Linked DNA regions of Homo sapiens: region 2 is linked to region 1. The links come from fine-mapping of genetic effects on gene expression. Tissue or cell type: whole blood. Region 1 holds a variant in brackets; the other region holds the start of a gene. All regions are shown on one strand. Distances are from middle to middle.

The links. PIP is the estimated chance that this variant, and not a neighbour inherited with it, causes the effect. A credible set is the group of variants that fine-mapping cannot tell apart.
Region 2: KRT8 starts here. The variant in region 1 is the best candidate, but not a certain one, in a credible set for the expression of KRT8 in whole blood (TOPMed, PIP 0.88).

Annotation. Positions count from the first base shown.
Region 1 is chr12:52,964,955-52,969,068 of GRCh38, forward strand. No RefSeq gene overlaps it. Among named protein-coding and RNA genes, the nearest start is that of KRT18, 18 kb to the left of the region's middle. RefSeq lists an enhancer at 1-588. The variant C/T (reference allele first, on the strand shown) is at 1,793.
Region 2 is chr12:52,903,261-52,907,374 of GRCh38, forward strand. KRT8 (keratin 8) reads right to left here and starts at 1,816. Exons shown (of 8, transcript NM_002273.4): 1 at 1,398-1,816. The coding sequence starts at 1,721. RefSeq lists a silencer at 587-756.

The DNA.
Region 1 (4,114 bases):
GGGCCAGATAGGGTCCTAAAAGCTTGACATATATTAATTCATTTAATCCTCCCAACAATCCCAAGAATGCACTCTCTTTAGCCCTATTTTAGGAGCGAGGAAATGAAGGAGCTGAGAGGTTAAGGGACTTGCCCAGGAACGCCAGTTCGCCAGTGGCTTGCCAGGGATTTGAGCCTGGAGAGTCTCACTCTCTGTCCGCATCTCAGTCGCGCTGATCTCGGCCACACGTAGGTCCATAGGCTGGTCCTCCCTCACGAGTGGCCTCCGCGAGCCCCTGGCCCCTGGAGCGCCCTCCTCCCAGCCACCAGACCCTCTGAGGCCTGACTCCTGGCTAGGCGGGGCTAAGGGGCGAGGAGAGCTGGGGGACAAAGCCCCTTTACGTCGGGGTGGGATTCCCCTTAAAGCCACTGCCAAGACGGAACAGGATGGGGGACAGAGAGGGACTGGGGGAAGGCGCCAAAGCCCGGGACCGAGGAGGAGAGGGGAGGAGGTGGACTCTACTCGAGGGAGGATCCGAGGGCGGGCAAGCGGAACCCTCCTCCTTAAAGATCTCGCAGTGAGGTTAGGGAGCTGCTCCCCGGCTCTGGGAAGCCGCTATCCTGCCCATACCCTCCTTTCTCTCCGCTGCTGCCCCTGCCTCGCTCCCGCGCGCTCCCATTGGGTGGTGCCTGGGTGTCCCCGGCTCGGCAGCTGCGGCTGCTTCCCAGCCCCGGGGTCTCAGGGCCGTCCCGCCGGTCCCAGGGCACCGCTCCTGTGCCCCACGCCGCCGCTTCCCCAGTTGCCCCCTGACTGCAAGAGTCTCCTGGTTTTCGGCTTGTCCTGGGACTCCTGGGAGAGCCCACCGAGAGTTCTGGGGCACCTGCAACCTCCCTCGTCTCCTAAGAGGGTGGGGGAGTTCTTTTCTAAATATCATAAACCTCAAGGGGAAAAACCAAGGGGTGTATGTGTGCACGTTTGGGGTAATATTTGAGTATTAAAAAACAACCTTCCTCCCAAAATAAATATATGAATAATAAAAAATTAGCCTGCCTTGGCCGGGCGCAGTGGCTCACGCCTGTAATCCCAGCACTTTGGGAGGCCGAGGTGGGCGGATCACGAGGTCAGGATATCGAGACCATCCTGGCTAACACGGTGAAGCCCCGTCTCTACTAAAAATATAAAAAATTAGCCGGGCGTGGTGGTAGGCGCCTGTAGTCCCAGCTACTCAGGAGGCTGAGGCAGGAGAATGGCGTGAACCCGGGAGGCGGAGCTTGCAGTGAGCCGAGATCTCGCCACTGCACTCCAGCCTGGGCGACAGAGCGAGATTCCGTCTCAAAATAAATAACCAAATTAATTAAATTAAATTTAAAAATTTAAAAAAATTAGCCTGCCTTGGTGGTGCGCACCTGTTATCCCAGCAACTCGGGAGGCTGAGGCAGGAGGACTGCTTGAGACCAGGGGTTGAAAAACAGGCTGGGCAACAAAGTAAGACTCCATCTCTACAAAAAATTTTAAAATTCACCTGGCGTGGTCGCGTGTGCCTTTGGTCCCAGCTACACAAGGGGCCCAGACGGGAGGATTGCCTGAGCCCCAGAGGTTGAGGCTGCAGTGACCCATGTTTGCACCACTGCACTCCAGCCTGGGTGACAGAGTGAGATCTTGTCACAAAGATAAATAAATAAATAAGTAGAATGCAGAGCAATGAAACCCTCATATGTTGCTGGTGGGAATACAAAACGTGTACAACTACTTTGGAAAACAGTTGGGCCGTTTTTTCTAAGTTTAAAAATACACCTCCCAGCGCGGTGGCTCA[C/T]GCCTGTAATCCCAACACTTTGGGAGGCTGAGGCGGGCGGATCACGAGGTCACGAGTTCAAGACCAGCCTGGCCAATATGGTGAAACCCTGTCTCTACTAAAAATACAAAAAAAAAAAAAAAATAGCCAGGCGTGGTGGCATGCGCCTGTATTCCCAGCTACTTGGGAGGTTGAGGCAGAAGAATTGCTTGAACCTGGGAGGCGGAGTTTGCAGTGAGCTGAAATCTTGCCATTGCACTCCAGCCTTGGGCAACAGAGCAAGACTCTGTCTCAAAAAAAATAGTAATAAAAATAAAAATATACTTACCAGCTCGGTGTGGTGGCTCACACCTCTGATCCCAGCACTTTGGGAGGCCGAGGTGGGTGGATCACCTGAGGTCAAGAGTTCGAGACCAGCCTGACCAACATAGAGAAACCCCGTCTCTACTAAAAATACAAAATTAGCCAGGCGTGGTGGTGCATGCCTGTAATCCTAGCTACTTGGGAGGCTGAGGCAAAAGAATCACCTGAACCCGGGAGGCGGAGGTTGCAGTGAGCCAAGTTTGTGCCATTGCACTCCAGCCTGGGTGACAAGAGTGAAACTCCATTCTCAAAAAAATAAATAAATAAAATAAAATAAATAAACAGATGGTTCAAGTTTGGCCTCTCCCAGTAGGAATCCTCTTTGTGGCCTTCCTAACATCTGGCCTCCGTTTGAAGAATTTATGACAGTATAGCCCCTGTTGGATAATAATTGTATAATTACTGGAACATTATTGTTCCTTCTACTGGGCTGAAATCTGCCTCCTACTAACCTTCTAAACTCAGCTCTGCCCACTAGAGTTACACAGAACTCCCTCTTCCATTAGATTTCAGCCATAAGTGATTATTCTTCCCCTAACCTGTATAAAAGCAGCCCCAGTCACGGTGTAAGGATTTAGCTGCACTGCTGGCCTCAACCTCACCTGCCTGAATGAGCTGGAAAATAATTATCTACACAGAAACAGCCCAAGGAATTAGAATGATAGTGATGCTCAGATCCGGGGAGGCTGTGTCCCCCTGAAGGCCCTGGTCAGATCCTGGTGAAGTGGATGGTGCTGCCACAGGAGGGATGTAGGGTAAACTTCTCAGAGACTCAGGGCACTCCAGTGATCTGGGCCCAAAGCACACAGTTCCTTTTCCTCTCCCCACAATCCACACTGGAGCAGCAGGCTCTAGTGGGCCCCTCCCAGGCTGGCAGAACTTTCCCTATCACCCACTCCCCAGAAGCAAAAAAAGTTTAAAAAGCACCAGCCTAAGGCTGGGTGCAGTGGCTCATGCCTGTAATCCCAGCACTTTGGAAGGCTGAGGCGGGCAGATCACAAGGACAGGAGTTCAAGACGTGCCTGACCAACATGGTAAAACCCCGTCTCTACTAAAAATACAAAAATTAGCCAGGCATGGTGGTGCATGCCTGTAATCCCAGCTACTCGGGAGGCTGAGGCAGGGGAATTGCTTGAACCCGAGAGGCAGAGGTTGCAGTGAGCCAAGATCATGCCATTGCACTCCAGCCTGGGCAATGGAGCAAGACTCCGTCTCAAAAAAAATAAATTATTGTACATTTAAAAATAACTAAAAGAGTATAATTGGATTGTTTGTAACATAAAGGATAAATGCTTGAAGTGATGGATGCCCTGATGAGATTATTATGCATTGTATGCCTGTATCAAAATATCTCGTGTACCCTAAAATAGATACACATACTGGGTACCCACAAAAATTAAAAACTTTTTTTTTTTTGAGACAGAGTTTCACTCTTGTTGCCCAGGCTGGAGTGCACTGGCTCAATCTCGGCTCACTGCAACCTCCGCCTCCCAGGTTCAAGTGATTCTCCTGCCTCAGTCTTCCGAGTAGTTGGGATTACAGGCGCCCACCACCACACCTGGCTAATTTTTTTTTTTTTTTTTTTTTTTTGGATTTGGAGTAGAGACGGGGTTTCGCCATGTTGGCCAGACTGGTCTCGAACTCCTAACCTCAGGTGATCCACCTGCCTCGGCCTCCCAAAGCGCTGGGATTACAGGCATGAGCCACCAGACTCAGCCAAAATTAAAAACTTTAAAAAATAAATTAATAACCACAGCAGTAGCTAGTAGCTAATGGCTACCAGATTGGACAGGACAGTGCAGCACCAGACTGTAAGCTCCCTTTGAGCAGAGACTGGACTATCTTGTTCACTCTTATGCCCTGATACATAACACAATTCCAACACATAAACAGCAGGTTGTTATTTTCTTTTTTAAAGACAAAAATTTGAAATTGTAATTTTTATTAAATTGTAAATAAAATGTTATTTTATTTTATTTA
Region 2 (4,114 bases), 62 kb before region 1:
CTCTCATATTCATTTTATAGATGAGGAAATAAGACTTGGCAAGGGAGTCCATAACCAGGAACCGGCAGAGCAGTGCGAACCAAGAATTCAGATTCCAAAGCCTATGCTTAGCTGCTCTCTATAAGGACCCCAGGGCTAGCAAAACGCAGTCAACAAGTCAAGTCCAGGCGCTTGGAGCGCCAAGGGCCCCCGACCACTGGGTTCCTGGGGCTCCGGTTCCTCCCGGCTTACTCTGCCCCAGGATTTCCCTCCTCCCGTTCCCACAATGCCTCCCAGGAGCCAGTCAGCGTGAAGGGCCCAATCCTCGGGGCCGCCGGGGGCCCGGGGCCCCTCAGGCAGCGGAGTCCCAGGGCTGCAAAACCCGGCCTGGCTCCTGCTGTGTGAAAGTGGAGCCAGGCCGCTGGGGCGGAGCAGGGACAGGACGCGAGAAAGGGACACGGGCTGAATGGGCGAGGGGCGTTGGTGGGCGACCGCGTTATCTGAAGCCATAAACTTAACAGGACGTAAACCCCGGGCGGGGCGTCCCACGCCCGCAGACTTTGAATCCTGCATGGGCTTTCCGAGGCCAGGCCCTGGCGCCTCCTCCACCCCACCCCAGCCCACCCCACCCCACCCCACCCCACCCACACCGCCCCCGACGCCGAGCTCCGCCAGGTGGAGGAGAGCGTCCCGAGACTGCTGCCCGCAGCCCCTCACCCCGCCCTCGGCCCCGCCCACGCTGCCGGCGCAGGGGCCGGGGTATGACTCATTCTGTGACCCCCGCACTCAGGCCTCCGGGCGCCAAAGGCCTCAATCAATATTTGCCCGTTTGAACCGAGACACCCACTTCCTTCTCCTAGAATGCTAGAATCACACCAAACCCCTATGTAAAAAAAAGAAAAGAAAGAAAAAAAATCACAAAGGCACCACTGGGGAGCCCTTGGGGTAGTGCTGGCGAAGAGGCGAACCTGGAGGAGGGTAGTCCCCGAACAGCTGGGACTGCCGCAGGGCGATAGCTTAAAAGACGGTCAGAACTCGGGTTGGGGTGAGAACAATAACCGCTATTATTTTTTATAATTTGGGGACAGAATGACCTGAGGAAGAACGGGATTTGTAGAGAGGGGTGGTGGGAACTAGGCTGTACCCTTAAGTTGTCTCTCTCTTCCAAGACCCTCCAGTTTAAAAGGGAAGAAGGAAGCCCCAGGATTCATCCCGGCTGTCCAGACCCTCTCCCCACCCTCACCCAGCCCAAACCAAGGTGCACGGGAGGGGTGAGTCGGAGGATGGAAGGGAGAGTGTCGCCAGGGCGGGTGAGGCCCAGCAGGACGCCAGCTGGGGGCTGGAGATGTGCATAGGGACCGGGACTACCAGGAGAAAGGGGCTGCGGGCACAGTCAGCCACGCAGGGGGGACCCTCACCTTGTCTATGAAGGAGGCAAACTTGTTGTTGAGGGTCTTGATCTGCTCCTTCTCCTGGGTGCGCACGGCCTGGATGTTGGGGTCCACCTCCAGGACAAGGGGGCTCAGCAGGCTCTGGTTGACCGTAACTGCGGTGATGCCTCCCATGCCGCTGGCCCCACCATAGCCGCCGCCCAGGCCACCGCGAAAGTTGCTGCTGCCCACTCGGGAGAAGCTCGAGGAGCTGATGCGGGAACCGGGCCCACTCGTGTAGGAGCGGCTGCTGAAGGCCCGGGGGCCAGAGGTGGACACCTTGTAGGACTTCTGGGTCACCCTGATGGACATGGTAGAGGCAGGAGTGGAGGCAGGCGGGCCGAACCAGGCGGAGATCCTAGAAGGAGCGGAGAAGCTGCTTCTTGGTGAGGAGAGCTCTCAGGAATGGCCTTTTATAAAAGAGATCCCAGCCCCGGGGGATGGGGGGGAAAGGCCTCGTACCTGAGTGGCTAGGCCCAGAGGGGGCTGGGCCTAACCCGTCACCTGCCACCTCCGGGCAGGACTCAGGTGGGGGCAGCAGAGAGCTGCCGCCACCCAAGGGCCCGTTCCAACCCTGGAGCCCACTCCAGCACCACCCCCAGAAACCCAGGAAAAGGCAGTTCAGTGAATATGAAACTGGAAGAAATCCTGTCCTGGCACAAGTGCCTGTAACAAGCAGACTTGCCTGGGCCGCCCAGCCACTACAACCCTGACTCCTGGGTCTTGTCTCCCTCCCTCCTGGGGGAAATAAACTGGAGGACTGGGAAGCATGGGAAAAAGGGGTCTCCTAGTATTTGGGTCTCCTCTGAGCTGCCGACACCCCAGAGAAACTCTCCTGTGTTCTCCCTGATTGAAGCGATTATGAGGGCCTGCCTGAGCTGGATGACAGAACAGCTGGAGTCCAAAGCCTTGAATCTGAAATCAACCATTTGCCTCATCTTTCCAGGTTACTGTTCTACCCCTAGCACCTGGTGCAGTGCCAAGAGGGTCTGGGTAGATATTTGTGGAATGAATGAATGAATAAATAAATGAGTGAATAAACATCACACGCGCACACACACACACACACACACACATACACATACACACACAGTGGCTGTCGTCCCTCTACATCTGAAGGTGCAAGATAAAAAGAGATCCAAGGCCAGGCACGGTGGCTCACGCCTGTAATCCCAGCACTTTGGGAGGCTGAGGTAGGCGGATCACGAGGTCAGGAGTTCAAGACAAGCCTGACCAACATGGTGAAACCCCATCTCTACTAAAAATACAAAAATTAGCTGGCCATGGTGTAATCCCAGCTACTCAGGAGGCTGAGGCAGGAGAATCACTTGAACCCGGGAGGCAGAGGTTGCAGTGAGCTGAGATCGTGCCACTGCACTCCAGCCTGGGCGACAGAGCGAGATTCCATCTCAAAGAAAAAAAAGAGCGAGATCCAACACAGCACTTTTCCTGAACATAACCCAGGGGCTTCCTCTCCTTCCAAGATCCTAGGATCCCCTGGGCCAGGTGAACACTGTAGGCCTCACTGAAGGGCCTAGAGAATGATGAACAGGGCTAGAAGGCAGAGAACGCAGGGGTTGGGGGGGGCAAGAGGAGATGGGAGCTATGTCAGGGACTTCATAGTTCTTGCTCTTTGCGGGAGTCACTCCCATTGCTCCCAGTGAGTGAATCATGGGAAGTGAGACAGGACGGCAGGGGGTACAGTGGAGTGGTGTGGCACTCGTGGTGCTACCTGGACCCTCCTGCTTTACCCAGGCTCCCAACGGGCCAGAGGAAATAGAGGAAGAGTCCCTGCACCTGTCTCCCATTATCAAAGTGAGTCAGGAGGGCAGGTTGGGACGTAGCACGCACCTGTGGGAGGTTGGAGATTGGGGAGCTGAGCAAGGCACCCCAGGCCTGGGTGGGGCCAGGCAGGGCATGCTGTGGGTGGAAGGCAGGAGGTTTAGGTCCCCAAGGCAGAGATTCCACCTGCAATTACCTGATGGCTGGGGCTGGGTTCTCTGGAAGATACTGCAGGGTGTGATGTGGGGACTGGATGAAACTGAACTCAGAGGACCAACAGATGACAGCCAGATCCCCTTGAGGAGAGGGACAGGTGACATAGCCCTGACCCAGGGAAGGGGGTGACCACCTACTGGGAGGACAGATGTACAGTTTCTTCCCCATCCTTCTCTAGGAGAGACACCCAGGCTCACAGAAAGACAGGCACATAGGACCCCTACCCAGAAGGACAGAGAGACCCAGAAGCCCCCTCCTTGGAGGACAGACAAACTTAAAAAGACAGACACACAGACAAGCTCTCTTCACAATGCACGCGTGCATACACACACACACACACACACACCCCACACATTGAAGTCCCTTCCAGAAAAATGCATAGATCCCAAGAGCGGGCACAGTGAGTGGCTCCTTCACCTCCCCTCCCCTCCCCAGGCCCTGCCTCCTGCTATGCTGAATGGAGCAAGGGAAATTCAGTTAGCACCTATTTACACCAGGCCTTCTCCCAGCTCCTTTAAACAATGCCTAATTTTCCCAAGAGTGATTGGAAGGCATGCTACCCCCTCCCCAACAAACACCCGCACCCACCAGGGCTGAGAAGCTTTTAACAGAAGACCAAAGGGAGAAGGACTGGGCCCAGTGCCAAACCTGGGACAGGGAAGGCGGAAGGAGGGAGGGAGGGGCTGGTCAGACGGGTATGGCAGCCC